Linked DNA regions of Homo sapiens: all the other regions are reported to be linked to region 1. The links are microRNA targets in miRTarBase. Many come from high-throughput screens and were not tested one by one. Region 1 holds a microRNA gene; each other region holds the end of a gene's coding sequence. Distances are from middle to middle.

Region 1 (10,255 bases):
CATGAGTTAGAAAATGAAGAGTCTTTGAAAGGTCTCCAAGACAATGAAAAGAGTAAGGTGCACACACAACATGTCATCATTATGAAAACAAACACCAAAAAACTATGTAATTGCGTATAGACATCCACAGGCATGCAAATATTCGTAGAGAAAGAGCCAAAGTTGTGTCAAATTGATGTCAGTGGGTTCCCCCAGGAACTACTGTTGCAACGAAGAAGAGTTTGGTCAAGAAGCCTTTCAGTTGAGGATATTTTCATGTATTATAATACTTGTATTACTTAAATAATTAAAACCAATTTAAAAGATTACAAAGGTAAAAACAGATGCAGCACTCTATTGACTTACTAAGAGTCAGGATTCCAAAACTCAAAGGGCTAGTGGAATTCTGGGCAGGACTGGGCTTCCACATGCCCAGGAAAACAACAAGGGATTTTCCTTTCCTCCAGTGCCATTGATCAAAAGCTACACAAGGACAGCGAGAGGAAAAAAAACAGAGCCCAGCCCAGGAGAAAGCAAACTCCATTCCAGCTCCAAAAGGCTGGTGCAAGATTCAAGAGCTCTCGTTGTTGCTCAAAGGGAACCCCACAGGGCCCTGAGGACATTTCTAAGCTCAGATGATGCTGCTCCCCAATCAGAGCCATTCATCAGAACTGGAATAGACAGGTAACAACCAGCGCAGTAAGAGACAGCAGATATCACACACTCCAGAAATGACAGGGCTTTGATCCTGTCCAAGGTAAGGGTCCCGTGTGAGCACGTGCAAAGCCTGACTCTCTCCAGCATTTATGTGCTCTGGTTAGGACAGCCCAGGCAGGGCTGGGCTCTGTTGCCAAGTTCTTCTGACCGCCCACCTAACTTGCCACATACATTTTTTTGGCCTTGAATTCTGCTTTACGTACTTGAGGCACTAATATATTTTATTGGGTTGTCATAATGATCAAACAAAAGAGTTGTTATTGAAGCGCTGTTAAAGGATAGTGCAAATAACCCCACCTAAAAGGCTGATGTGAGAAAACAGGGTAAACAAGCATTTACAGGCTGTTATTGAGGGGCCAGGTTCTGGAGCATTTCCATCTGGGTCACACCAAGCAGTATGAAAATGGGAGCCACAGGCCGGGCGCAGTGGGTCACGCCTGTAATCCCAGCACTTGGGAGGCCCAGGAGGGCAGATCACGAGGTCAGGAGATCGAGACCATGCTGGCTAACACAGTGAAAACCCGTCTCTACTAAAAATACAAAAAAAAAAAAATTAGCCGGGCGTGGTGGCGGGCGCCTGTAGTCCCAGCTACTCTGGAGGCTGAGGCAGGAGAATGGCGTGAACCCTGGAGGCGGAGCTTGCAGTGAGCCGAGATCGCGCCACTGCGCCACTGCACTCCAGCCTGGGCGACAGAGCAAGACTCGTCTCAAAAAAAAAAAAAAGAAAAAAGAAAATGAGAGCCACAATGTTCACACAAGCCAGGTTATTAGCACATTGGCCAGAACTCCAAAAGTGTTTTGATACAACTTTGGTATCAATTCATATCTCCTCTCCAGCATAAGGGTGCTACAGAGTCAGAGTGCAAATATCTGCACAGATAGCAAACTATCTATAAAGAATCAGAGAGCAAATACTTTAGGCTTTGCAGGTCATACGGTCTTCTTAACAACTACTCAATTCTGCCTTTGTATCACAAAATCAGCCATAGCCATGGACAAGATGTAAATGAGTGGGTGTGACCCATTCCTTCAATAGCCATTTATCCAATAAAATCTTATTTACAAAAGCAGGTTGGATTCGACATGCAAGCTATTATCTGCCAAACTCTGCTACAGCAAAACAAGTCAGCTGTACAGAAAATAATGATTCGAGTTCAGAGAAATATAATGCAAGTGAAAATGCTGTCAATTACAAACCTGTTCTATTTAGATCAAACCTAGTGTGACACCAACATCCCAAGTGGCTAAACTATAGATTAACACAAGCCCCAGTGTGGCGATACTCTTCCCCACGCCCCACCCAATTTGCAAGTATGCAATAAATAGTAGAACTTATGTTGAGTACCTGCTGTCCTCCAGGCCACACTCAGTTCCTGGTGCAAAGTGGAGGCCTGCTAAACATTTGTGGAGTTTCCAGTGGAAGTTTTAAGCCAATATCCAACCTTGGTGCTGAGCACTGGAATTAAAAACTAAAGCTCTGGCCGGGCGTGGTGGCTCATGCCTGTAATCCCAGCACTTTGGGAGGCCAAAGCGGGTGGATCACAAGGTCAGGAGATCGAGATCATACTGGCCAACATGGTGAAACCCCGTCTCTACTAAAAATACAAAAATTAGCTGGGTGTGGTGGCATGTGCCTGTAATCCCAGCTATTTGGGAGGCTGGAGCAGGAGAATCACTTGAACCCGGAAGGCGGAGACTGCAGTGAGCCGAGATCACACCACTGCACTCCAGCCTGGAAACAGAGCAAGACTCGTCTCAAAAAAAAAAAAAAAAAAAAGGCCGGGCGCCGTGGCTCACACCTGTAATCCCAGCACTTTGGGAGGCCAAGGCGGGTGGATCACGAGGTCAGGAGATTGAGACCATCCTGGCTAACACGGTGAAACCTCGTCTCTACTAAAAATACAAAAAATTAGCTGGGCGTGGTGGCGGGCACCTGTAGTCCCAACTACTTGGGAGGCTGAGGCAGGAGAATGGTGTGAACCCGGGAGGTGGAGCTTGCAGTGAGCCGAGATGGCGCCACTGCACTCCAGCCTGGGCGACAGAGCGAGACTGTCTCAAAAACAACAACAACAACAAAACTAAAGCTAAAGCTCTTTGCAGGCCTCCTGTTCTGAGAGTGTCCGGTATAAGAGCTGCTGACAGCTTTCTGACATGGGCCGTGGCAGCACCCAGACCTAGCTCCCCCAGCAGATAGTGGGAAGCTCGAGTTGCACAAAGATCAAAGCTCATTTCAAGGTCAGATTCCTGCTGTAGGAGCAGCTGAGCAATGAAGGAAATACATCAGCCCCCTCAGCTATATTCTTAGCCCAGGGCCTACAACCTAGTGAGTTAAGGGCTCAGAAAGTATGAAGCACTTTTCAATGTAACAGTTTATGTGCATCTTTCATTACCAGCATGGAACCAACCCTGCCCCATATCAAGTCCCACTCTGGGCAATTCATAAAACTGTTCTGACTCAAGAGAACAGGTTTTGTTGAAAGTGAAAGGAAGGACAGTTGCAAGAGTCAGAAGAGACCTTGGAGAGGCCAAGAGAGAAAAAGCCATGAGAGGGTAAATCACAGAGGCAAAGAGTTATTAACACCTCCCATTTGCATAGTGCTAGACTGTTTTCAAAACACATGACCCCAAGACCAGGACTCCCACGCCCAAACCTCCCAACCCACAACCATCACACAGATCGCCATTTTCCTTATTTCTCAGTATGAATGTCATTCCAGAAATAGCTGAGTCTCTGAAAGGCCTCCATCCTAAACAATGTGGCCTTTGCCCATATGCTTCGCCCACCAGCTCAAACATGCCCAAAGCCCAGCGTGGGTCTTGCCCCCTGGGCTTCAACTTCTCCCCCAGCTGGTGGCTTTGAAATGGGCTTGCTGGTCAGGCTAACTTTGCCTATGATTCATGCGGAAAGCAAAACAGATGGAGACAACTATGTGCCAGCATGGAGCTCACAAAGGCGATGAAGGTGACGTGGGCGGCTCTCTCAACAGGTAATCCTGGGGGTATTTTAGCTAGAGCAAAGCCTGTGTCTGGCCACTAGTGGGCACAAACTGCTCAGTAAGTGGAAGGAATCTTCATGTCAAGGTATTCCAGCTAACTTTGATACAGTTATTCAATGAACTGCATTCCTAATTAAGAGGCTTTGTGGCAGGCACAGAGCTAGTTTGTCAGGGTCTAGTTCTGCACTTTGACATCCATATTCTTGCTCTGCTAGTGAGTTTTTGGACTTCTAAAGGGAATAACACGCAGCCACTGAGGTACCTGAGGTTACTGGATAATAGTAAGCTGTCTGAGGCTTTTTTATACCCTTGTTGGAAAACTCTAGAAACAGGGAAACAGAGTAGGCTTTGTTTCTCTAAGAATTGCTCTTGGAAGACTTACTCCACCAGATACAAAAGAAAAAGGAGGGGAGTGCATTGTACGATGAAGGATATCAATCTCCCTCCTTGGTAATTCACAATGTACCATGAATGATCAAAGCCTGCTTAACTTTCAAAACTTAGTGTCTTTCAAACGGATTTATCAGGAGACTTGTTTTTGTTTTTGTTTTTTAAAAGAAGAGCTCACTTAAAAACACTGAGTTTGGCCATAGAAAATGACGGGAAAGGCAGTTGCAATTGCAGTCATGAACTGCATCAGTGGAGAATGAACAGGGAATAATTCGCTTAGTTTTAAGATCTTCAGGTTTAGGAGGAATTCTCCCCATAGAAATAATAGAGTTCTCCTCCTTCTTTCCCCTAAAGTATGAAAAAAGAACACGCATTATGGAAATGAAGAGCTAGAACAAAAGAGCTGCTACCCCCACCAGTGACAGTAAACCAATGCCCGTTTACAAGCACAAAACCCATCTCTGCTCCCTCTGCCTACTGCAATTCTACCCCATTGCCAAGGCCCAGCTCAGAGGCCACCTCCTTTTAGGATCCCTCGATGCCACAATTACATCCTGAACATGAACAGAGGCTCCGGGACCCATGCAATGTGCAGGTCCTACCTCAACTTCAGGTCCTACCTCAATGCCTGCTCTGCTTTTAGGAAACCAGGGTACCTGCCCCAGGTTACCTAATTTGTTACAGGCAGACCCGGTGCAGAAAAACAAGGATTCCCTGATGCCCAGACTACTAGTTTTTCCACTACAACACACTGGGGGTGCAGAGAAGTCAATGATATGCTTGCAATCTAATGAATTAAATTATTCTACCACCATTCTTCAGACTTAGAATCCACAAAAACTAGAGAGGGTGGAAGGAGAATGGTGTGGCAAAGAGAGAGCGGCTTCCCTTATTCTCTGCTCATCAGCCTGCCAAGCCAAACCACTGACCAAACTTCAGAAGGGCAAGAAGAGGCCCTGCTTATGCAGCTGGGACCAGCACCAGAGAAGCCACTGAAAGAAGGAAGGAAAGAAAAACTGCAATCGTCAACTGTTTGAAGAGTCATCGTGTAGAGGAGAGACGGGGGTCACCCTGCAGTCATTGTCCAGGAGGCACTGTGGAGATTTAAATTCTTTAAGGACGTGCCAAGCAACTTGATAAAACCCAAGTCCAGCACATCAGGCATGAATGAAGGCAACTAGAAGTGAATGGACAAAAGAGGGGCAGTGTTGGGTTTAACAAGGTAATTTCTTTTTTTGAGACGGAGTCTCACTCTGTCGCTCAGGCTGGCGTGCAGTGGTGCGATCTCGGCTCACTGCAAGCTCCGCCTCCCGGGTTCACGCCATTCTCCTGCCTCAGCCTCCCGAGTAGCTGGGACTACAGGCACCGGCCACCACGCCCGGCTAATTTTGTTTTGTATTTTTAGTAGAGACAGGGTTTCACCGTGTTAGCCAGGATGGTCTCAATCTCCTGACCTTGTAATCCGCCCGCCTCAGCCTCCCAAAGTGCTGGGATTATAGGCGTGAGCCACCGCGCCCAGCCGAGGTAATTTCTTAAGTGACAATATCTCCTGGCATTCCTCCCTCATCACTGGCTGTTCATCCCCAGTCTCCTCTCCTTCCTGTACCCTCGTTAACCCCTGGCATGCCCAAGACTTAGCTCTGAACCCTGTTCCCCTTTTCTGCCTTCTGCTCTCAACTCCTCCCCAAGTAACTGTATTCAGCACCACAACATTGAATACCCTTCGGTATAGAGGAATGACTCTTGACTTTGAATTTCCAGCCCAGACCTCTCCCCTAAGCCAAAGACTTCTAAATTGAAGTGATTTGCTGACCTCTCTGATGGTCAAAATATAAATCCTGATTTCTACACCTTCCCGCAAATCTTCTGTTCCTCCTCCAGTCTCCCCATCTCAGTCCAAGATTCAGTTACACACCAGTTGCTCAAGCCCAAAACGTAGAGTCATCTAGAATCATTCTTCCCTAACTCCCTACATCTAACCCATCAGCAAACCCTGTCATGAGACCTGTTTTCTTCTCTACTTCCCCTCCCTAGCTAAGCCACCAGCTACCTCCTAGAGTTCTTGTGAGGATTAAATGCATTGCTTTTCAAAGAATGCCTGGCACTTACGTGAGCTGTTTGTATTCTTAACATCATTGTCATTGTCATCATTGTCATCTCAGTGTCATCATCATGTCCAGTCTGGACTATGACCACAAACTCCTCACTGGTCCCCAGTTTCCACTCTTGCCTCTCCCCAGAATTCATTCTCAACAGCCAGAATGAGCTTACAAAACATGAATCAAATCATGACACTCTTCTGCTTAAAACCCTTCAATGATGTCCCAACTGTCCTTCTCAGTACCACAGCCTGTGAGGCACCAGCGATCCTGCTCCCATCCCTCTCTCCCGCATTCCCCACCCTCCTTTCTTCAGCTAACTCAGGGCCTTGGTTCTTCCCTTTACCTCCTAGAATTTTCTTCCCATGGTTCTTCCTATAACTGGTCCTTCCCTGTCTTCTAAATCTCAGACCACATCACTATGGAAGGAAGAGGCCTTCCCTGAGCAGCTCATTCCTCCAGTGATGACTTTCCATTGGATCACCCTATTTGTTTCCTGCAGAGCATGTTCCACTACCCATAGTGATGCATGTATTGTGTATTGCCTGTTTCCTCCAACTCCTTGTGAGCTGCACAATGGCAGGGACCTGCTCTTTCTTGTTCATCTCTGTGCACCCCATTTCTAGAACAGTGCCCAGTACATAGGACAGGCTCAATAGAGTTGAAGAACACATGAATGGATCTCACTATTAGCTCTTCAAAAACAAAAGAGGCTCTCTTGAAGGTAATAAGTTCCCCATCAGTGGTAGGATGAACATGTGGTAGGCATATTGCAGAGGGGTCTGTGGCTCGATGGGATAGGAAGGAGGGATGGGCCAGATGACTCCGGGTCCCTGCCAGTGTTGGGGGCCACTTGTGTGTGGATGACTGCACACTCATGTGGCCCCCAGCACTGGCAGGGACCTGACCACAGTCAGAAGGCTTCATCCCAGACAGCCTTCTCTCGGGCACCAAAGATCAACATCCACAACCTCAGGCTGCACCATGGCCAGTCCCTGCTCCTGAAATGCAAGGGATGTTTTCTTGGTGCTGGTGAAATCTTGGGGATACAATTGAAGTTTTTTTAAAGCAAAGACTATAGATTCCAGGTCATACAGTTCAGACACAGGTTCAAACAAACATTTCATACTAATTCCTGGGTATTGGCATCAGAGAAACCCTAAGGGTTGAAATCCTGGCATGTTGACAACACATTCCGTCCTCTGTACCTCCCTTGTACCACCAGGGTCTCAGCATCTCATAAGAGCCTGTAAAATCCAGAGCCATTCCTTGGGTAGAGATTATGGGTTGGCTGAGGGAGCCACGAAGATTTTAAAATGTAAAACATGAACCCATAAATGCAGAAGGTCTCCCGTGTTTTCTAAAATCTGGCCAAAAGCTGAGCCACAGACAAGGAAATTGTCTGGTGTCCTTGCCAAAATGACAGTGTCACCAAATTGATAAACAAGTCTGGGATCGTTTTGAAGACAGCGATGATAGGAGACCACCAAGGGCTCAGGTTGGGGGCTGCTGAGACTGGCAAGATTTAGTTTCTCTAATTTTCAACCCAAAGCATTGATCTAATTCCTCACACAACCTATTGATAGTCATGAGTTTGCTGTTGCTGCTGCTGCTGCTGCTGCTGCTGCTGCTGCTGCTGTTTAAATGGAAAAGAAGAGTAGTAAGTGGTCATCTTCTCAGCGTCTGGTGCTGGTCCCGCCCACACACTGTGGCAGAGCAGACCCACCTGTTGTCACTGGGAAATGAGGGGCTGCAGGTACTGCCCTTAGACAATGGAGGTGGCCAAGGACGTTTGGGGACAGATTACAGGAAAGCTCAACAATTCCCTTCATGCTTTGGTGTTGAGCACTGGCCTCCTTTTTAAAAACAAAAGTGATTCAAAAAGGGGCACATTTTTTGTGCCTAACACCTCAGCATGAAAAAGTTTATCAACTACCTTTTCTTCTGAGACAAGAGAGGACTTTGTGAGCAGGGACAGGCCCTGAGAGACAGATTTTACTGAAGACAAACTGCCTGGGTCCTGCCTCATCACTGAAGCTGATGAAGACCAGCCAGGGGCCAGGGCAAGCCAGGACTGTGCCCTTCTAGCTCTTGGGCTCCCAAGCCGCCTGTGGCTTAATTCCAGTATTCTGACCCATTCTGCTACACGTCAGGTCCACACAAATTAAACAAAAAGCAGGGGAATGCTTGTGAGAACTTGGACTTGATATTTGGATCTTGGAGACTTCAAAACAAAAAGCACTGGTTCATTCAATAGCAGGGCAAATGTTTTGCCTGAATCCTTTGGGTCAGTAGATTTTAAACTCACCCATAGGGTCTTGGGGAGGAGGCTTGGCACACCCCTCCCCCTCACCAGAGCCTTCCAGATTGTATGAGTTTGCAAACTAAAGCTCCAGGAACTGGCCTCATTCAAAGCGACGCCATGGACCCTGCGTGCCATGCCCCAGGGCTCCACTCTCTTAATCAAGGCAGAGGGAACCTACTTACTACTCAAAACCAATTTTCTAACATAAAATGTTCACAGTTATTTTCTGATTGTGAAAATAAAAGATCTCAATGAGGAAAACAGGTAAGGCAGCAAAAGAAAGAAAACAGCCAAAGTGATAAGAATCCCGTCACCCAAAATAATCACTGAAAATATACCGATGCATTTCTACCTTGTACAATTTCTGATATATTCTGCCTTATAGAGGCTTCTGGACTGTCACTCCAACTTGGAATCAAATGGACCACTGAGAAACCCGTGGAAGACAGCAGGTCTAAGGAAATCACAAAGATTAGAAATGCATCCATGTGCACCCAACTCCTTCCTAGTGGGGGTGGGGGGTACCTTTGAGATGGTCTGTGATTCTACTTACCCCTCACTCTCTGTTCCCACTAGTCTGCCCTGCCCTCTGTCCCTCAACTACGCCAAGCTCCTTCCCTCCCCAGCGATCTTGCACTTGACGGTCCTTCTGTATGGAACCTCCCCGAGATGTTCATATGGCTGGCTCCTGGCCACTCCTCAAGGAGACCTTCCTTCACCACTGCAATCCCTCTTTATCCCATTACCCTGTCTTATATAGTTCTTACCATTGCCCCCAAATTCTCCATGTTTACTGACTGGTTTGTCCAGTAAAACATAAGCTCTTGTTCACTCTTGTAACCTTAGCACCTGCAATAGTCTCTGGTACACGAGAGTTGTTCAAGAAATAGTCCTGCATGAAAGATCAGAAGAGAAATGGAGAGACTCCCGAAGTGGGAAGTTCACATTTCAGGACGTGAGAAAACGCTGAAATTCCAAGATGAGGGGAAGAGAGATGGGAGGTGAGACTTAACAGAAGCAGGAGTGGATCATTCAGGTAGATTCCGATGGGCCTTGTTAAAGATTTTCATCTGAAGATTAAGACCAATGAACGGCCTCTGAAAGGTTTCAAAATGAGGAGTGATATAATTAGGTTTGTGCTTTTTTAAATATCAGCCTGGATTCCATATGAAAAATGAGTCACAGAGGAGCAAGAAAGGGTTCAGGCAAACTAGTTAGGAGGCTGCCCTGGCGCCTCTGACAAACGAGGAAGCAGCGTGACCACAGGTGGGCAACAGGCATTGGAACAATGGGGTGGCCTGAGGGACCCGTGACAATGCTGAGAAGAGAAAGAAGGAAACGCGTCAAGTCAAGGCAGACTCTAGATGTTTGGCTTGCTGGCTGGTGAAGCAGCATTCACTAAAATACTAGAAAGTGACAGAGGGGTTGAATTGGCAGAGGAAGATAAGGACTGTCTCTGGCCTAGTGACTTGGGGGCCTCTCTTAGATATCCCAAGGGAAGTGGCCAGGAGACAGCTGGATAAACAGGTCTGGGATTCAGAAGAGAGGTCTGGACTCATTAAATAATAATAAGATGGCCAGGCATGGTGGCTCACGCTTGTAATCTCAGCACTTTGGGAGGCTGAGGCAGGTGGATCACCTGAGGTCGGGAGTTCGAGACCAGCCTGACCAACATGGAGAAAGCCCGTCTCTACTAAAAATACAAAAAATTAGCCAAGCGTGGTGGCGCATGCCTGTAATCCCAGCTACCCGGGAGGCTGAGGCAGGAG
Region 2 (10,255 bases), not on the chromosome of region 1:
ATGCTGGACCAGTGTTTTCCAAAGTACAGCTCACAGGCTACTACCAAGTGTTGGTCAATAAAGGTATTCTGAGGTCAACTAAGATTGATATAAAGTTAAACTAATGTATTTCAGTATCTCTCAGAGGCATTCATAATGCTCGTGTGCACTGTGAATCTCCCAAAGGGGAGAAATTGTGTGCTGCAGTTTCTTGCTTAATTTGACCACAGAACTCTTTTTCATGAGATTAATATTCCTTGGAACACGTTTGGAAAATGCTAATGGTGGTGGAACTGAGCTCATGAGAGGTTAAATAACTTGTGCAAGACCACACTGAGATGCAGCACTGGTAGAAATCCAGCCCTGATGTATCCTTTGACTCAGGTAGACAAGATCTTCAGGTGCAAGCTTAGGAGCCATCTCCCTACAGCCATGGGCCTCACAATGTTGGTGGCTTTACTTTTTATTTTTCAATAATGGCCAACTTGCTATTTAACTGTGATAAAGGGAAATGTTTCTGAAGACATTTTAAAGTTTTTTATACATACGTAAGATTTTTATATACATACGTAAGGATTAGATACTATGATTACTTTTTTTGTATTTTGAAATTGAAGGCACTTAAGCTCTTGTGATATTTTGAATTGACTGATCCATTTAAAAAATTGTTTAGCTATAGGTGTTTGTAACAATTTCTTATAAAATGATTTTTTTTCTTGATTCATGATATTAAACTCCAGATTGAAATGAGGGGCTATGAGCTTTGACCCTGAGGAAAGAAGGCCAAAACATAGATCTGAGGAAAGATTTGAACATGGCAAGACAATCTCAGGGTTAAGATGTTGCTAAGTTGATTCTGAGAATCAAAATCAGGCTTTTTTTCCTGTGATGGGATCATAAAAATAATCTTTTTATCAGGACAAAGGTTATGGGCGAAGGATAGACAGAATTTTGGCACTGCTGCTTTCCTGAGCCAAATTAAGTAGTTTTTCTAAATCATGAAAAAAGAGCATGACTATCCATCTGGAACTTCCTAGATTGATTTTCAAATGATAGTTCCTCTTTGAAGTATTTACAGGTCTGTTTTTGCCAGACATCTTTTCATACTGGGAACTTTTTTTTTTGTAATATCCACTAAAGTTAATCTGCCTTTATATAGACTTGGATTTTTAAAAAACCAAAGGATATATTTTCCATTCAGATTTATGGTAACTATTTTATGAGTAAATAGAAGTTTGAATATTTTTCTTATGGTTTAATCTGTTTTTTTAAATTATATTTATTGGTGATATAAATGTATCAGATGTATCAGTGCCTGTGCTCACCAAGTTCGTCTCCTAAGAAGCAGTTTGTGTGCTACAACGTATGCGTATGAGTAAATAACACATGAACAATCTGCTGGGGCTGCCAGGTACATCCCAGCCAGGACAGCCGCTGGGCCAGGGGGAAGAGGTACTGCTGAGGGAAGGAAGCAGCTCTTCATGGGCAGCTAGCCAGGTGTAACCATCACAGTAAAAACAGCCAAAGAGAGAAGAACAACAGCAGTCCTTGAGGATATTGTTTTCCATGTTTATTTTTAGAGGAAATCATAGGTTTGTCAGTTTCTGCTTTGTGACTACTGTGAGAAGCTAAACAATTAGAAGCATTACTTGTGATATTTTTAGTGTATTTATGTTGTTTTCATTTGATTTGGGGGTGTATTATAGTACTGATCACAATTCTAATCCCCATCAAGCAATGTACAGATAACTCTTCCAAGAAATGTTTCCCTCCTTTCTTTCCTCCCTTCCCTTCTCTTTCTCCCTCACCTCCTGTCTCCTCTCCTCCTCCCTTTTTAAAGGCCTTTGAACAGTTTAAACGACCACTCAATAAAATGGCTCTGCCCTTCACAGGTGGTTGGAAGTTGGCTTTGTGCCTCACACACCATAGGTGTATAATTATGGAGCCTAACAGATCCCTTTGTTATTTTACTGCTTATGCTTGGTGCCTACAAAAGCTTACTGTTGTTAGCAAGTTGAACTCTTTGACACCAGATGTGTGGGTGAGATATAGTGTAGGTGGCTATGCTTAAACAATCGTATCATTCAAGTGTTATTTTTAAAAGGTTTTAAAACACATTTTACATATCACAAAAAATGCTTTGTGAATTAGTTGTATGGTTTGCCAGTAATACCTAGGGCTGAATTACAGGGGAATGTCCATCTGACATGAAGGACAATATTTCAATTTATGACTTTTTAAAAAAATCTGGAAATTTCATATATTTAGATTTTAAGAGGGTTTGGAATAGATGATGGATTACATAAAAATATCTAAATATGTGGAGGAATTAAGATCCTGAAATGATGTCAACTAAAGAAATGCTCTCTTACATTATGCTATGTGTGATTGTTTCCCAGAGTGAGAGATGTACAATTTTATAAATTAGCTTTTCTTGTCCAACTGAAAGCAAGATAGACAACATAATGGATGTGGAAGTTTGAAGACACCTGCAGGAAGACAGAGAGGTACTTTTAGGTGACAACAGGAGCAAGCTGCCTTCTGAGAGAGCCTGCTGGGTGGCATGACATTGAAGAGTGAACTATTTGGGTGTGACTGTTAGCCTTATTGACTTAGAACCCTGCTTTTTGTTATTGCACCATAAGACCTGTCTCTTGTTAGTCAATTCATATAGTTGGTACAGGTAGTGATTCACAACCAAAAATATAACTAGCATAAGGATAAAAACACTTGACTTGATATGACCAGCAGATTCTCTCTCAGAAGACAGATTTACAAGGGGTCAAATTATAATAAGGTGGCTACTTGGTGAACTGAAACAAAACAAAGGGAGCTTGTTATATAATTCACATGGTTAATGTCATGAGGCCAAAGAGTTTGATGCAGATGCCACCCCCCACCCCAGTGGGGCTAGCCTTGTTAATGGGATGAGATACCAGGTCTGTTGACAAAGACCACGCCTTCCTTTATGCAGGTCCTGCCAACTTTTTCCTCTCTGTGACTGCTGTTTTTCTAATCTTCATTATTGACAAACATCCCACCCCCTCTGATGGGCATATTTTTACTCAGATGTGTTAAAATCTTTAGTCTTTCTCTGGCCTAGGAGTTGGATTATCTTTTAAAGGTAACTGTATTTTTTTTGTTATGATCCCTGAATGTGAAACCTTAATAGGTCACCAGAGATTTGAAATGAATACTATACTTATCTAATATAAATCTTGGAAGATACAGTTAGTGGGTAGCTTCTCTATTATTTAAATAATTTGAGGCATCTGTTTTTTTAGATTTGGTCGTTTTTCCAAAAAAGAAAGACTGATTGAAAAGAGAAAGGGAAAGAATACCAACATTGACTAGAGATCCATCAGGCACTATATGAGGCACCTTCGATACCTCTTAATTTGCACCTCATGACCACTCTGTGATATGTTTTGGTATTTTCATTTTACAGATGAGGAAAGACCCAGAGAAGGTAGGAGAAAGTTGCTGAAGGACACATATAGCTAAAGTGGTAGAATCAGAATTCAAGCCCCCATATGTCTGCTTCCAGGGCTCATATTCTACTTCCTTTATTTATTACCATCTTTTTAAGAAAGTGAAGGAAATGACCCCATGGATAAGGCATTCAAGAGGTGACTACATCTGCTGATGTTATACACATACCAGTCATTTGTGCCCCGCAGCAATGGACACTGTAGTCTGCGGCTCTTGTCAGTGCTTCTCAGACTGTCTGGGGTGATGGACCAGTTTCCCTCTAGTTCATCACTAGTAATACTTTTGTAAGATACACTAAATTATTAGAAAAATGAAATAATCTTTGAAAGAAAAGACATACAGAATATAAGCACGATGATCATGTCATGACAATGTCAACTTGCCATACATATTTTGAAATGTCTAATTTCTATGTTGTCACATACCAGCAGTAGTTTGACAGCACCAGTCATTGAGCACACTTTGAGTAGCACTGGTCTACATGTTATTTTTCTAAGATGCCAGTGATCTTTTCAGGAAACAAAAAAAATCCGACCTTTTTTCAAATGTAAGTTTACAATTTAAAAGAATAGCATCCTACACTGACTATTGGAGAGAGTATGGTATATAATTTGTTAAATGATTATAAAATTGTTTACTTTTGTTGACACCTTTAAGAAGAAAAAGAAAAATGAAAATTATGAAACTTATAACCTCTCTCAGCAGACTTTTGCACTTTATGGAATTGTCACCATCATCACTTTTTTCCATCCTCTTCAACTTAAGTTTTGCTTAATTTTGTCTCTTAACTAACTCATATCCCCAACCACTTAATGTTTACAATGCATGTTGGAATTGAATGCCTTACTGTACAGCTTACTAGATATAGGTAAATATGTATAGTATGGCACTGTAGATTGGGAGAATGGAATATGATTATAGATTTAAATGGCAATAAAATAATAGAACTAGACCCTGGTTGGGGAAATGAGACAGCGCTCCTCCTGCCCCGGGCTCTTTGCTGCACAACAATGGCAGTATTTATGGAGCACACACTGTATGTCAGATAACTCATTTTAAACATCAACCTGTTACATACCTACTGTAATCACTTCCGTTTTACAGAGGTGGGTCCTGAGGCCCAGAGATGTTCTATGTGTGTGTAAGTTCTCACTGGCAGAGCTGGGACTCAAATGCAAACAGTGTGACTCCAGGGCGCACACTCCTAACCCCAACATTGTAAGGTCCTTGGGTTGCCATCTAAAAACTGGGACTTTCCTGGAGCCACAGTGGGGGACAAGTGGTCCTATATTAGCTGCTTGAAGCAGATGGCAGCTGGTTGAGAGTTAGGTACACAGCTGGACTGGCACTTAGCCGGACTGGCTCACTTTCCCCCCATGTTAGACATCAGCAAGTTTCCAGTTACTCCCTTATAAGAAGCCACAGTTTGTCCTGGCATAGTGTAAATTACTTTCTGAGATCTGACAAACCACTCCCCCTTTCACCCCTTTTCTGTCCCCACCTAGGCACCAGCCTCTCTCCCAACTGCCCCATGGTTTGGAATTCTTAAGCCAGATATTCTCAAGGCTTTGCTAAACAAGCCCAGGAGTGGTTTGGGGCTTCAGAAGTAGCCTTTGTCTTGTCTCCATGCTCCAAAGGGCTGAAGAACTTCCAAATGGAAAATCACCTCTTTCTTCCCTACAGTCACTGTCAAAGCATACCTTCATTTTCATAGAATCAACATAACCTTAAGCTCTAACCTCTCACACTGAAGCTGAGGAAACAGGCCCAGAGATCTCCCGAAAGGATCTCTTCCTGTATACCCGTGCTGTCCAGTATGGTAGCCTTGAGCCACGTGTGGCTATTTAAAATTAATTAGAAACCTAATTCCCCAGAAAATTAGCCACATGTCAGTTGTTTAATAGCCACATATGGCTTATGGTTACCATCCTGGACAGTGTAAATAGAGAACTTCCCATCTTCCCAGTAAGTCCTACCGGACAGTACAGAGCTGTGGGTGTGTCTGCTTTCCCTTCCTGATTTCCATGGCCCTGGCCAGAGTCCCTACCAACCTCTGGGTTTCCTGTGCAGTTATCAGTCCAGCCAACTCACCTGCAGAGTGTAAAGGGTCTGGTGTACCTACATTTCACAAAGCATCAGGAATTTGAAGCATTTCTAGGAATCTAGGAATATCTAGAAATCCTAAATGGAAATACAACCACACACATACACATATCAGGCATGTATGGTAATGGTTCAGGCTGGGCTGCTTTATGGCTTCCTCTGCCATAACAGATGCAGGGAATGGCCTCCCTGCCTCCTGGGGTGGGGTAAGGTGCTAAGCGGACCAGGGCTTTGACATTAGGAAGATTTGAGTTTGAATCCTGGCTTTGTGACCTTGATCTCATAACTTAAACTGTTAGCTTCAGAATTCTCTTGTTTAAAATGGGGATAGTGATAGGAACACCTCCAGTTTTTGTTAAGGGCAAAATGATAATCTCATCAGCACACTACAAGCACCCAATATCCACGGATGTGGTTCCCTTTTCCTAGATTCCCTGCTGAACTCCAAATTGGCAGAGAGGAATATTGCCTAAGTAATGGTCTCAGTACCTCAGCAGTACTGGAAGGAATTGCCAATTAGAGGGAAGCTATTAGCCAGCTATCCACTTCATGTGACCCATGGCAGGATTAATAAGCCAGTAAAGCAGGGTTGCTCTTCCTGTGAATTCCTTAACACTTTTCATGAGGTTTACTGCCTGCTGGACAATGTATGTATTATAATCTATTCCTAAAACTTGAGGAATAGTTCAATAATTAGCAGTTAACCACTTTGGATCCACACAAGCTCAGCACTCGGTAATTTACTGTTTCTACAACCATAGGAGAAAGAGTAGGAAGTAAGTCATTAAGGCAGTGATTACCAGCCTGGGCTCTGTGACACCCCTGTGTGTGTTGAGGGATCTCAAGAGGGGTTACAAAATCTCAAATCAAAATGTAATTTGAATTCACTTTAATATTTTTTAAGGTAGCATATGGCACTTTGGGGACAGGAAGAAAAAGTCACAAAGTCCACAAACCCATGAAGGTGTCAGCTCACAAGGCTGGAAATGACTGCATTATCGATTCTGCTGTCACAGTAAATGTTCCATAACAAAGGCATGTTGAATTTGGTCTCATTCATTAGAGTATAGGACTTTTGTTTGGTCACATCTTTATCATTTAAGAAACATTTAAAAATGGTATTCATTTTTATTTCAACATGTCAACTGTGCATTTCCAAAACAGCAGGCTTTTCAAAGGAATAAATCAGAACTGTAAACACAAGATACAGTACAAGTTTTTGACTTCCTACAGTCAGTTTCACAAATCCACATACTGTACATTCATAGGTGAGGTTAAGCCTGTCACCCATTTCTTTATTTCTATAATTACACAAGCATAATAAATACATCTGATTTTAAAGGTCACTTAAAATGAGTCATAATTTACAGTACAGTACGTTTCAGTTCAAGTGCAAAAAATAACTATTTGCTGAATTCTATTTCTTTCAGTTATTTTATTTTTAAGCTGTGTTTTATTGTGAAGCGAGACATCCAAGTGTAGAATTTCTTATCCCAAATGCAGTATTGGGCAGAACTATGGTGTCATGGAGAAGCCCTCACTTTACAATTGATCCTGTCTAATCAGGGTCAGAGGGTAAGGTGAGTTGCTCATTTCGACTGTTCTTTTCTTTCCTCTCTCTCCTGTGCTCATCCACAGCTATTATAAATTATATAATTCACCTTTATTCAGCTAAAACAGTTTTCCCTTTTCCACACTCCCCCCAGGTTTCCTGTTAACCTCTGCTTTGATTTTTAGTGGCAAGCTTTACGTGCGATCCACCCAGCCATTGTTCTGGCTGCAGTTGTAACGTTTGCAGTTGCATACATTACATTGTCCAGTGTCTGACTGTGTCTTCATGAGAACGAATATACTGAGATTTTCTTTCTTTAGTCATTGGAAAGTATAGTTGCTACTTATTGCCATCCTTCCCATTCATGGTTTCCTATTTACCACCTTTTCCTCACCAAAAACAAAACAAAACTGACCCAATATGTAATTTCTAAAAATTGTATCCTTCCCCCAGGCACTTAAATCTTATACTGTGATTTGTAACTAGTACTGCTTATTTAAGGAACTCTTAGGAATTCAGTGATTTTTGTGTGTTTCATTCCCTCAGCTAATTAGAGCCTGAATTACTATAAGATAGTAAATAGCGAGAGAGGCTATTTACAGTATCAATATATTTAGTAAACTCTTGTCTATCAAAACACAGGATACTGAGTTGGTTGGTTGATTTGAAATAATCGCTTGTTTCTGTTTTTTTTCTCAAAGCCCATTTAAAACAAAAGGCATTTTTAAGCTCGGCTTAGCTTGCAGTAGTTAATAATAGCTTCTGTTGCTCAAAGAATTATTTCCATTATATGCCATACACATATAAAAATATATTTGCTAAAGATATGTAAAGTTTCTGATGAAACTTTTAACTTCATTTTTTAACTTTAACTTTTAACTTTATTTTTAACAAAAGCACATGTGCTACTTTTATCTGGTTACTTTTTAAATATATCTTGTAATTTTTTAAACGGTTCTCTCCAAGAAAAAAGAAAGTATAGATGAATTCTATCTCTTCCCAGTTTGTGTTAGGAACCAAATAAGAATAAATAATCAGAAGAGGGAAATTATATCCACATTCACCTCGAAACACTTTCATTCCCTCCACTTACTTAGTGTAACTGCCGGTTTCAACTCTTACTGCACTGGCAGAGAAATTCTATCATCCTTAACCTAACCAAGCAAAGAACTGAAAGTCCTCATTGAACTCCATTTCCCTGTTGTAATTCCAATGAGATTACGAAAGTTTACCTTTTCCTGCCAATATGTACTGTAGCTCCTGTGTGTGTGTTTCCATGTTAATGAGTTTAGATATTTAGAAGCATATGCAGTGCTGTGCTCCTCCAGGGGAGGCATATCCTGGCTGGGGGGCCTCACCCTGTGTCCTGGCTGAGGAGCCTGATTCCATGCAGGGTGTGAGATGAGCAGGATGCCCTCAGTGTCCTCCCGCGGCCAGCTGAGCCTGCTGCTCTTCACTCTCCTCTGTGCACGGGTCCACACTGGGGTGAGCGGGGCTGGTCTGCGTCTGAGATGCTGCTGCGTCAGGGGATGGCTGGTTTCTAGATGGGTCAGAGTGAGTCTCACATGGGACAGGCTGGGCTCTACCAGCAGGAGAATTTTCCCTATTCTCATTGGTCCCCTGGAGGTAAAAAACAGGAGATGCCCCATGATCAGTGATAGCAAATAAATCCAACTTTTTATATATGCTTTCAAGTAAGACAGGAAACATGGGGAGATCATCCGGAAGTGCCCATTTCAGGGACCAAGTAATAGAGGAATAAGGATAGAATGTCTTACCTTTCATCTCCTTTCCTATGTGCAACTGCCAGAGCCGCATGAAAAACACAAACACTATAAGCAGACGTGTCTTGTGGAAAAAGGAACATTACTACCAAAATGTCTGTTAGTACTTGGTAAACAGTTTACATCAGCAAATATTTACTGAGCCCCCCAAGCCATGTGGCAAGTCGCTGGGCAAGCACTATGGAATAACTGAAACTCAGGCCGCTTGCTAAGACCACAGAATCCAAGAGCCAGAAGACACTTTGTCTAACAGGAGGTAAATAAGGGGTTCTTATCCTTGGAGGCAGAGCTGGGAAAGAATGTCCTGTAATTAAGAGTCCTGATATATATTTGGTATTTCAAAATGTGCACCAAAAGTTAGATAAGACAGAACATCCACATAAAGAAGTGAATGTAAACAAGCACTTGTGTAACCAACTGTAAATAACCATGAGTAGAACATCACCAGCAGCAATTTCCATAAATGCCATATTGGTTGTACAAATAAAAAAAAATTTAAATGGATTCTCCCCCAAATTAGTACCCATCACTTTTTGGCTGAACACCCAAATAAAAATGTTCATTTCTGTGATTCTACAATGAAAGAAAAAGAAACTTAGTATAATGACTTCTAAGAATAACTACAGCATACCTGCCAGTTTTTATTAATCCTAACATACCAGAAACATTTTATTTATTTATTTATTATTGTTATTATAATTTTGAGACGGAGTCTCACTCTGTCGCCTAGGCCGGAGTGCAGTGGCGTGACCTTGGCTCACTGCAACCTCCTCCTGCTGGGTTCAAGCAATTCTCTGCCTCAGCCTTCCATAGTAGCTGGGATTACAGGCACCCGCCACCATGCCCAGCTAATTTTTATATTTTTAGTAGAGACGGGGTTTCACCATCTTGGCCAGGCTGGTCTTGAACTCCTGACCTCGTGATCCACCCACCTCGGCCTCCCAAAGTGCTTGGATTACAGGCATAAGCCACCATGCCCAGCCCAGAAAAAAATTTATTAATCCTAACATACCAGAAAAAAAGCGCCACATCAAAAATTTTATGTGGCTTCTGTGAAAATGAGGATGAGTACACAAAGTAATGAAAATATTGCTACTCAAGCAGCAGATATTAAAATCATCCTTTCTCCTGTTTAGTCTTCTTGCTTTAAGGTATTAAAATCCTCCATATGCATCTCCCACCACAATATCTGGTTCTTGACTGAGCAGAGTAATGATGTGAGTTTATTATCTTGATAAATTAATAAATAGGATCATGCATGGACTAGCATGCATATGGTTATCAGTAAAGAACCAGATTTGGTTAAAATTTCACAAAGATTTTATGTTAGCTTACAAAGTGAGAT
Region 3 (10,255 bases), 66 Mb from region 1:
CACAGTCTCGTAGATGGCGAACCGAGTCAGGGAGTAGGTCATCTGGGGGAGAAGGGCCTGGCTTGGAGGGACGGGCACGCCCCACACCCCTCAGCCTCGCCACCCGGCCCAGCCAGGGATCCCCCTCAGCCCGAGGGGCCACAGGGACCCTGAGGGGCCTTCCCAAGGCCACTGTGCCAGCATGCGGCTGAGCCAGTTCACAAATCTAGAGCTGCACCCTGCTTTCTCACTCCCTGGGCCTCAGCTTCCCCACCAGTAAGTGGCGGTCTCAGGCCCAGCCCTGCAAACTGGGTGGGTGCCCATGGGAGGCGCACCCTGGGGTCACCAGCTCTCGGCCTGGTGGGTCCTTCCTTGCACAAAGTCTTGAAAAGGGGACGGAAGTAGCTTGGATGCCACTGCAGGACTCAGCCCCAGTCTGGGAGCCCAAGGCTGGCACACACCACGCACCTGTCTGCACAGCGAGGCGCTCAGGCCGCTGTAGAGTGCCAGGATGCCGTCGGTACGCACCACCCGCAGCGCCATGCCCGTCATGCGCAGCTTCACCTCCTGCTGCGTCTGCAGATGCACCTGCGGGAGTGAGTGCTCTCAGACCCCACAGCGACCCCGAGGGATCGGTGCCAGGTTCATCCAGAGAGGGGGAAACTGAGGCAGGAGGCAGTGATAAGGCCTCCCACGGCCCTGCCCGGGGACTCCACACCCGTGCCTGGAACCAGCTCACACCACTGCTTTCCAACAGCAACCACACCAGTGGACATGGAGCTGAGAGTGTCCGCGAGCCCCGCGAGCGCCCCGCGTACCACCTGAGTATTGGCTGCACTGGCCGCAGGGGCTCGCCATTCTCCTTCTGCAGATGAGGAAACTGAGGCATGGAGAGGTAACGCACCCGCTGGTGCCATCAGGATTTGGGCCCAGCGAGGAGACCCCAGAGCCCTACTTTTTATCCACCACACCACGTCTCAAGAGGGACAAACGTTTATGGCCGCTCAGAAACGGCGAGGGAGCCTGCAGGACCATGGGAGACTGAGGAGGTAGCCATAGAAGGCCTTGAAAGGCAGCAGGAGCTCAGCAGCAGACAAGGGGACGGTGTGGCTGGCGGCAGGGCATAGCGGCCTCCTCTGCAAAGCACCTAGGAGCTGTGGGCAGGCACTCGGGGGCTGTCAGCCCGACAACCTCCCATTCTGTTGGCCTCCACCACTCACAGGACCTCTGCCTCCTCGCCTGGCCAGCTGAGAGCTCCCGGCAGTAGGGGGATTGGCCAGGGCCAGACAGGAAGGCCAGCACCTGGCCCAGGATCCCAGCTCCTGGGTCCCACCCCCAGCACTGACCCCAAAGAAGTCCTTCCGCCGCTCAGTGTGACCTGCACGTGCGCGGCCCCGTAACGCACGCCCAGGGGTCGGCAAAGATGGGTGGGGACAGAGAGGGGCCTCCCATTGTGCGAGCCCAGCAGAACAGAGGGACTGGGCCACACAGGTAGCAGCCCCCGTCCCGGCCAGATGCGACGGTAGGGACTGTAGGGACATGGGACAAAGTGCTCAAGAAGCTTTAAAAGATCTTTCCGACGGCCAGGCAGAGAGGCCTGGTGAGCAGTCCTCAGGAGCACACCCTGACCACAGCGCCATATGCTGCCAGCAGCTGGCTCCTCCCGCCCTCCCAGGCCAGAGGGCAGTCCCGCCTCCCCCAGGCGGTGTTCTGCAGCCAGAGAGCGCCTGGTTGGGGAGGGCCAAGGGGCAGTGGGGCTCAGACCCCGGACAAGGGACAGCAGCACGCAGGTCCCGCCTTCAACACCCAGATGAACGTGGGAGAGGCCCTGGGGGAGGGGCACCTGTGCGGCGCCCAGGAGGAAAGGAAGAGCCCGATGCCAAGGAGGGGCTCGCTTCTTCTGCCCATGCCAGCGCCTTCCTGTCGCTGTGGCTGCATCTCACTGGCCGTGGCTGCCTGTGGCCTGGGAGCTCTGAAGGCCTCTCCCAGGACCAGTGAGGTCTCAGGTGCCCCAAGACGCCCACATCTGCTCACCTGGCCTTCACGCAGCGACCAGCATTGTTGCTCATTAGTAAAGCCAGTCCCCTCAAAGGCTGCTGGAATACAAGTCCCCTGGACAGGCTGCTAAAATAAAGGTCCCCTAGACAGGCGGCTGCCCAGTGACCACAGCCAGGTTCACAGGGCAGGGCCTGCTGGGCAGACTGTGCAAAGCCTCAGGCCCTTTCTTCTTTGTTCTCTGTGGCAAGACACGGTCAGAAAACAACGCCCCTTGGCTGTCCCTGGGAAACAAGGAGAGCTCTGTCTTATTTTGCCCCATAAGCATTAAAAAAAAAAAAAAAGTAAAAAAACGGTGGCTGCTTCTCGTGCTGAGAAACGCCCGCTTTCATAGGGCCAGGACCACACGCGTGCAGGGTCTCCTGGCATCTCTCCTGGGGGTGTGCTGGTCCTAACATCGCTTCCAGTGCCCACGCAGCTCTCCGAAGGAAGCAGCCCAAAGCCGGGGCATCGGGTCACCCCACTTGCCCAGGGACACGTCCGGCGGTGTGCTAAACACCCCTGGGTGGGGGGCGGCTTGGCCCACACCCTGGGTATGCTACAGCCAGCACGTCTCTAGATGCCAACACCTGTGCACCTCACAGAACTCCCCCCACAACTTCTAACTAGGCGGAAGGAGCGTTCTTGAATGTATGGGGGTGGGTGGCTCAGAGAGGCCAAGTGACTCCCCCAAGGTCACCAGGTATTAAAGTGTAGAGCTGGGGCTGGATCGCCACCTGCCGAGAACTGGGAAGCCGGCTGGGAAGCTGGGGAGCGCGGCTGCGCCCTGCAGGCCTCGAGCTCGGCGGCCACCACTGGAGGGCCACCCGGGATCGGCCATCCGGGCGTCGGGGGCCTCCTCGCGCTCTCCAGGAGGGAGCCCCGGGCGCGGCGATCCCCGGGTGCGTGGGGCCGGGCTGCTGCCTTTGCAGGCGTCTCGGCGGCGCCAGGGTCCCATCCGCCCCGCGTCCCGGGCCCCGGCCTCACCTTGAGCAGGTCCAGCGGGTGCGTGCAGCAGGCGGCCCCGCAGGAGGCCAGCCCCCCGAAGTACCAGCGCGACACGCGCGCCTCGGCTGCCATGGCCCAGGAGAGCCCAATCCCGGCCCGACCACAACCCGACCCCGGCCCTACCCCGGCGTGTACCGGCCGCAGCGCCCCGCGCCCCGCGCCCCGCGCCCGGTTCAAAGCGCCGCCCGCGCGCCCGCACCCCGCACAGCCAATGCGCGCGCGCGCCCCGGGGGCGGGACCGCTAGGCCACGCCCCCTGCGATTGAGGCGGGCCCGGCGCCTTAAAGCGGCCGCGAGGGGCGCCGAGCGCGGTGGGCCCGGCCTGCGGACGCGCGGGTGCTCCGGGGCTGCTGCGTGGCCGCCTCCACTCCCCCGGGCCCCTGGCGTCCTCCCTTCTCCAGGCCGGAGCGCAGGGCCGAAGGCCACCGCCCGGGGACCGGCCCCAGGCACATGGGACCGCGGCGGGCGCCCTGCCAATCCCCAGGAGGCCCGGCCCCTGGCCCTGAACCTGCACCCGGTGGCCACCCCGCCGCGCAGGCGCTGGCTCGTGAGTCACCTGGCGGGGGCCACGTGTGTGCGGCGTGGGCCCTGCGTCCACAGGTCTGCAACCCCTGCCCCCACCGAGGGCTCAGCCCCGGCCCAGCTGCAAGAGAACAGAAAACCGGCTTCGGGAGCCGGGCGCGGTGGCTCACGCCTGTAATCCCAGTTACTCAGGAAGCTGAGGCAGTAGAATCGCTTGAATCCGGGAGGCAGAGGTTGCAGTGAGCTGAGATCGCGCCACTGCACTCCAGCCTGGGCGACAGAGCGAGACTCCATCTCAAAAAAAAAAAAAAAAAAAAGAAAAAGAAAAGAAAAAAAGAACCTGCTTGGGGCCAGACTGAATGAAAACTGGGAAAAAAGGCGGTTAGGAAGGACTTGCCTCTCCCTTCCCACACACAGATGCCCGGAAGCTCCTGCTCAGTTCTGGTCTGGCTCTGACCAGACGCCCCAGGCAACCACCCTGGAAGTGGGGCCCCGGGGTGGATTCTGGGGCTCTTGTTCCCAGGAGATGCCTGCCTGCATCTGGGCCCCTGCTTGGATTCCACTTCCCTGCGAAGAACAAGGAGGCGCTGGTGTGTTCCTGGCCCAGGTGCACCTGCTGGGCAAAATGAAATTTAAGTCCCCAAGGCTGCTTTAGGGCTGGGCCACAGGGATGAAGACCTGCAGCTCCAGCTTGGTCACTGCTGTCCGGCCTCCCCCACCCTCCAGGGCGAAGGGTGAGGAGCACCGGAAAAACAACTCGTGGTCCCTGGAACCCCTCAAGCACCAGAATGTGTCCAGCCCTGCCTCTGCGCATCCAGCGATGCCCTGGCTGTGTCGGAAGCGCAAGACGCACACTTAGGATTTTCAGCTTGGCTGTGGGTTTATTGGGCCGTAACCCCAACGTAGGCAGGTAGCCAACTGGAGGAGACTGTTTTCTAGACCCTTAGGTGGCCTCTGACCCCAGAAGTCATCAGCGGAAGATTTGGGCTGGGGAGTGAGCAGCTAACCAGAGGCGGTACCCCTGCCCGGAAGTGTGTCCTGGACCTTGGTTTGGTTGGGTCCCTCAGGTGTTGCCCACACAGACCGTAACTACCTGGCAATCGAGAAGGGTGCCAGATGGACACTGGGGGTGAAAACACAGCCACGCCTGGTGGGGAAGCGGGTGGAGGTGCTCAGGAGGCAACCAGGAGAGTGCAGTGCAGCACTGCCCGCACCAAGCCTGGGCTGGGGCTCAACAGGAAGCGTGGAGATGGCGCAAATGCACCGCAGGGACTCAGAGGGATCACGCTGGGCTTAAAAGGCCCAGAGCAAACAGACTCAACCGTTAGGAAGCAGGGGAAGTGGCCCGATCTTAACGGAAATTTCCCAGCAAGAGGACAGGCTTCCTTGTCCGGGGCCATCCAGGCTCACACCTGACTGAGTCCCGCAGACTTGGCTGTGCCCACAGCGCCTGTCTCACTCAGTGTAAACCGAGATGAGTTGCATCCATCGGCTCCCGATTACCAAGAATCAAGAGGCGATGGATGGAAACCTTGGGGGAAGCAGGGCCTGGAGGGCCAGTGTCCCCTGAGTCTGTGAGACACTCCAGGAAGGAGGGGGGCGGGCCTGGGCTGCAACCTGTCCCTCCGAAGGCCACCTGCAAGACAGGGCTGAAACTGGCTGCTGGCAGAGACCCCCCAACCCACAGAACACTGGCTCCCTGCTGAAGGAAGAACTGCTCCAAAGCAGAAAGAGCAGGGCCCAGCGGGTAAGGAGCAGGAACTGAAGAGCTTTACAAAGAACAAAAAAGGCTGGGCAGGGCAGCTCTCACCTGTAATCCCAGCACTTTGGGAGGCCAAGGTAGGAGGATCTCTTGAGGCCAGGCGTTTCAGACCAGCCTGCGCAACACAGTGAGACCACATCTCTAAAAAAAATCAAAAGATTAGCCAGGCATGATGGCACGTGCCTATAGTCCCAGCTACCTGGGAGGATGAGGTAGGACGATTGCTTGTGCACAGGAGGCTGAGGCTGCAGTGAGCCTTGATCAGGCCACTGCACTCCAGCTCGGGTGACAGAGTGAGATCGTGTCTATATTAAAAAATAAAAATAGGCCAGGTGTGGTGGCTCACACCTGTAATCCCAGCACTTTGGGAGGCCGAGGTGGGTGATCACCTGGGGTTAGGAATTCGAGACCATCCTGGCCAACGTGGTGAAACGCTGCCTCTACTAAAAATACAAAAATTAGCTGGGTGTTGTGGCGGGCGCCTGTAATCCCAGCTACTAGGGAGGCTAAGGCAGGAGAATCGCTTGAACCTGGGAGGTGGAGGTTGCAGTGAGCCAAGATCGTGCCATTGCACTCCAGCCTGGGTGACAAGAGCAAAACTCACTCAAAAAAAATTAAAATTAAAAAAGATAAAAATAAGGTTCAAGACCAGCCTGGCCAACAGGGTGAAACCCTATCTCTACTAATAAAAATACAAAATTAGCTGGGCGTGGTGGTGCATGCCTGTAATTCCAGCTTCTTGGGAAGGTGAGGCAGGACAATTGCTTGAACCCGGCAGGTGGAGGCTGCAGTGAGCCAAGACTGCACCACCAGCCCAGGTGACAAACTGACACCGTTTCATAAAAATAAATACATAAATAAGTAAATAAAACATTAAAAAAAATAGAACAAAAGTGCAAGGAGCTGTAGGGGACTGAAGTTTGTGAACTCCGTGAGCTAGAGATGCTGGGAGAGCAGTCAGAAGGCGAGGAATCCTGAAAACAGGAAATGCATCCAGGGCCAGAGGCTTTTTCAAATGATGAATCTAGAACTGCAGGTCGGGGACTCACAAGGATCCCTGATGGATTCTCAAACGGATCATAAGTTATGTCGGTAGGCCCAAGGGGGTGGTTGGGGCAGACTGAGCAAGCTCACGGGACAGGGCTCCCCGTCCAGCCTCCGACTGCGGCCTGGCATCCACCGCAGTGTCCTGCTGCTTGGCATCCACAGGTTATTTTGGGGGTCCCCCGGCAGGGAGGAAAGGGCCTCTCGGTGGCTCCTGCGAGTGGCCTGGCAGACGCCTGAGCCAGGGTAGACAGCGAGGAGTCGCGGGCAGAGATTTTGCTGGTCTATCTGGCCTGGGTGCAGCCTGGATGAAGACAGCATGTCTGTCTGACCTCAAGCAGGGCTCGTCCCTGAGCTCAGATGTTCGCTGCCTTCCAGAGGGGAAAGGCAGTTGGGGTCAGCAGGGCACCAGGCAGAATGCACCCAGCTCCAGGTGGCAGTGTCACCTCCTGAGGGAAGACCATTAACCCCTCAAAATGGATACCATGGCCAATGGGGACTTCCAGGCTTGGCTTGGGACAGCCTTTCCTGGGGACAGCAGGTTAGTCAGAGAAACTCTACCAGAAGGCCTTGGAAGAGGACCTGGGCCAGGCAGGGTGTACACGCACAGTGAGCCTGAAACTCCCTGCCCCTCCCGCTCCCCCAGGAGTCCCAGCCAGTGGGCAGCTTCCAGACACACGGTGCCCCTTTCTGGTCCCATCCAAGGGATCCTTCCACCAGGAAAACTGAGGCTGGAGGGCATGGCAGCCTACGGGGCCATCACACCAGGCATGTTTCCCGAAGCAGGTGCGGAACATGGCCTGTCTCTGGCCTCATTGTGGGCCCACAGCCTGGGGGCTGGCCTTGGTCACGGGCCAGCTGAGACAGAAATTCGCTGATTCTCTCCCAGGCTTGGCTGAAAACAGGCGTGCCCAAGAAAAGGCGGCCACGGGTCCTCAAAGCAAGGCCCTGGCCGTTCCAGCCAGGCCATGGGGCCACACCCCCTGTACTCAGCAGTGGCACCAAGGGGTCTGCAGCCCGAGAGTGGCTGCCAAGGGCTGCCCAGCACTGGGCCACACCTCACCAAGTGCACAGTGACCAGTGCTCCAAGCTGACCACGGCACTCCCGGTCCCCATGTCCACAAGCCCCTCCTGCCGCTTTGCCCAGGTCCCAGGATACCCCACTTAAGGGCCCCAGAGGAACAGCTGACACCCCAACCCTGCAGATGGCAGGTGCATCCCACACCCCTCCCCAATCCCCCTGCGCAGCCCCGTGGCCGGGTTTAGGTTCAGGGGTACTTGCAGCCTAAGCTAGGGGTGGCATCGCCGGCTCCAAGGCTGCCTCGGTTTCTCAGGCGAGTGCTGAACTTCCTGTTGCCTTAAAGAGGGCCAACACTGAAAACAGGGAGGGTTCCCGCTGCCCAGGTCCTCCACACCACTGCCGTCCACCAGGCCCACTGTGGGGTCTCAGGACAGGGCCCTGCACACCGGGGACCTGATGAATGTCTGTAGACTCTCAGATGTCTGCTGAGGAGGCAGGGAACAAGCCTCCCATCCCGTACCAGCCTCGATCCCCGCACTGGCCCCGCAGCTCGGCCTGAGCACCGCACTCCACACGCTGCCCGGATCCCCGCACTGGCCCGGCAGCCCGGCCTGAGCACGGCACTCCACACACTGAGCTGCACAGTGTATTTTTCTCAGCAGCCACCAGAGGCACATTCACCGGTGGCGCGTCCTGGTGGGCCTCCGGGTGCCGTCACCAGGCAGCAGCCGCCCCTCCCTCCCGCCACAGTAGGTCTGTGCGGCCTGTCCGGCCCCGCTGCGTGGCGCAGGCAATTCTCCCAAACGGCTCCACTGGGCGCCTGGTGCTGGGGGCGGAGCCAGTGACCACGGGAGGGCGGGACCTCGCCCGGGGCCCAGGACCCCTGAACACAAGTCCTCCGAGCTGGAGGCTACTCCAGAACCACGGTGCCGCCCACCGCCTCCAGGGCCGCCTTGATCTTCTCCGCCTCAGCTTTGGCGACATTGGCTTTGATTTCCTGGGGCAGGGACTCCACCAGCTTCTTTGCCTGCCAGAGAGAGCAAAGTCAGGGACTGGGGGCCCTGGCCACCACAACGGAACCTGCCTCGGAACCCCCACCGCGGCACAGACCTGGACGAGGTTGATGCCTTGGATGTAGTTCTTGATTTCCTTGATCAGCTTCACTTTGTCCACGGGCTTCGCCTCGGTCAGGCGGACGGTGAAATGTGTCCGTTCTTTCGCTATGGGGATATCTTCTTCCACCGCCTTAGGGAGCAGGAAAGAAGGGGAGCCAGGTGACAAAGGGCTGGGGGGAGCTAACGCCTCCACTGCTGGGCCACCCCAGTCTAAAGCCCCAAAGGGAGGTGCAGCGGAGGCCCCAGCGAAGCCTGGAGTTGGAAGTCACGTCTCCCAACTCATCAATCCTTAACCAGCTGGTGCTTTTTCTTTTCTTTTCTCTTTTTTTTGAGACGGAGTCTCACTCTGTCATCCAGGCTGGAGTGCAGTGGTGCGACCTCAGCTCACTGCAACCTCCACCTCCTGGGTTCAAGCGATTCTCCTGCCTTGGCCTCGCGAGTCCAGCTGGTGCTTTTTCTCTCATGCTAGTCAGAGGCAGGTCTGCCCAATAACTCTTTGTAACATGCCTCGGACGGGAGTGGTGGCTCCGGTGGCTCACGCCTGTCATCCTAGCGCTTTGGGAGGCCAAGGCGGGTGGATCACTTGAGGTCAAGTTTGAAACCAGCCTGACCAATATGGTGAAACCCTGTCTCTAGTGGTGCGCGCCTGTAATCCCAGCTACTCGGGAGGCTGCGGCATGAGAATTGCTTGAACCCGGGAGGCGGGGGCTGAGATCGCGCCATTGCACTCCAGCCTGGGTGACAGAGTGAGACTCGGTTTCATAAATAAATAAAAACATGCTTCACAGTCCTTCCCTCAATACTCTACTCCCCTCTCGCTTAGAAAGCGTAACTTATGAGACAGGAAAGAACGACACCAAAAGTGCTTTGTAGATAAAAGCAGCGCCATTCCTTTCTCAGCCACACTGCAGTGCACGTGTGCCGAGAAAATGACAACCCGCCATGGGACTGACGGGCACGCTGCGCTTCTGACGTGGCGCATGGAGACCCAGCACCACCCGAGGGCAGGGGGCTGCGTGTCCCCACGGCCTGGGAAGGCTATTAATAACATCTTCTCCCTCCTCAAAAGCAATCCAGTTTACACAACAGGCTCTACAGTAATCCCAGCTATTCTTACCCAAACGCTCGGCCTGAATCTAATCAGCCTTTAAACTACCTTCCAGTTCTCAGGCATGAGTGATGCTGCCCCATGGGCACCCCACGCATCTGGAACATGGGACACTCTACAGTACACAACCTGGTTCCCCAGTGGGGGAAAGGGGCTGAGGGGAGGGCTCCGGTGGAGAGGTTCACGCAACCCGATGACCAAACGCAACTGGCGGCTTCAAGTTCACTGGTTTCCTTGCAAAGACCCAAGGACGGAGCTGCTTGTTACACCCCTTCGCCTGCGCCAGCCTGTACCTCGCTGCTGCTCCCTGAATTGTCAGACACCCTCTTGCCTGGTGACCTTGGTGCCTCCCCGTCCTCCGCCAGGAAGGCCGTGCTCTCTTCTACAATGTCTGCCTCCTCTTTGAAGCCCACCTTGAACTTGGAACTCTCCCTCCCACCTTGAGCCTCTTCCCTCCTTTTCCCCACAATGCTTACAATGTTCTATTTGGTATAATTTCTTCCTTTCTTTTTCCTCTTTTTTTTTTTTTTTTTTTTTTGAGACAGGGTCTTGCTCTGTTGCCAAGTTGGAAGGCAGTAGTATGATCTTGGCTCACTGCAACCTCCGCCTCCCTGGTTCAAGCAATTCTCTTGCCTCAGCCTCCCAAGTAGCTGGGATTACAGG

What was found. Region 1 holds the annotated microRNA hsa-miR-4731-3p (CACACAAGUGGCCCCCAACACU, at 7,020-7,041, opposite strand). A microRNA usually pairs through its seed, bases 2 to 8, with sites in the 3' UTR of a target mRNA and lowers its output. Matches are read on the target gene's strand: a 7mer-m8 pairs with bases 2 to 8, a 7mer-A1 pairs with bases 2 to 7 and ends in A, and an 8mer does both.
Region 2: the mRNA of MFSD6 is a reported target of hsa-miR-4731-3p. Seed matches in the 3' UTR shown: 8mer at 6,883-6,890 and 7mer-m8 at 6,772-6,778.
Region 3: miRTarBase lists MRPL12 as a target of hsa-miR-4731-3p. Seed matches in the 3' UTR shown: 7mer-m8 at 8,257-8,263.

The regions. Positions count from the first base shown.
Region 1 is chr17:15,244,615-15,254,869 of GRCh38, forward strand. It overlaps MIR4731 (microRNA 4731), which reads right to left and starts at 7,082; the gene lies at 7,013-7,082. The region is part of intron 3 of PMP22 (peripheral myelin protein 22); the gene reads right to left.
Region 2 is chr2:190,498,506-190,508,760 of GRCh38, reverse strand. It overlaps MFSD6 (major facilitator superfamily domain containing 6), which reads right to left. Exons shown (of 8, transcript NM_017694.4): 8 at 6,447-8,746. The coding sequence ends at 8,543. NEMP2 (nuclear envelope integral membrane protein 2) reads left to right here. Exons shown (of 9, transcript NM_001142645.2): 9 at 1-4,423. Among named protein-coding and RNA genes, the nearest start is that of NEMP2, 31 kb to the left of the region's middle.
Region 3 is chr17:81,705,265-81,715,519 of GRCh38, reverse strand. MRPL12 (mitochondrial ribosomal protein L12) reads right to left here. Exons shown (of 5, transcript NM_002949.4): 4 at 8,480-8,614; 5 at 8,003-8,396. The coding sequence ends at 8,280. SLC25A10 (solute carrier family 25 member 10) reads right to left here and starts at 3,236. Exons shown (of 11, transcript NM_012140.5): 1 at 3,001-3,236; 2 at 448-567; 3 at 1-42. The coding sequence starts at 3,093. RefSeq lists silencers at 2,745-2,794, 2,805-2,914, 2,925-3,594, 4,667-4,961, 7,949-8,078 and enhancers at 4,195-4,464, 4,667-4,961, 4,639-5,339.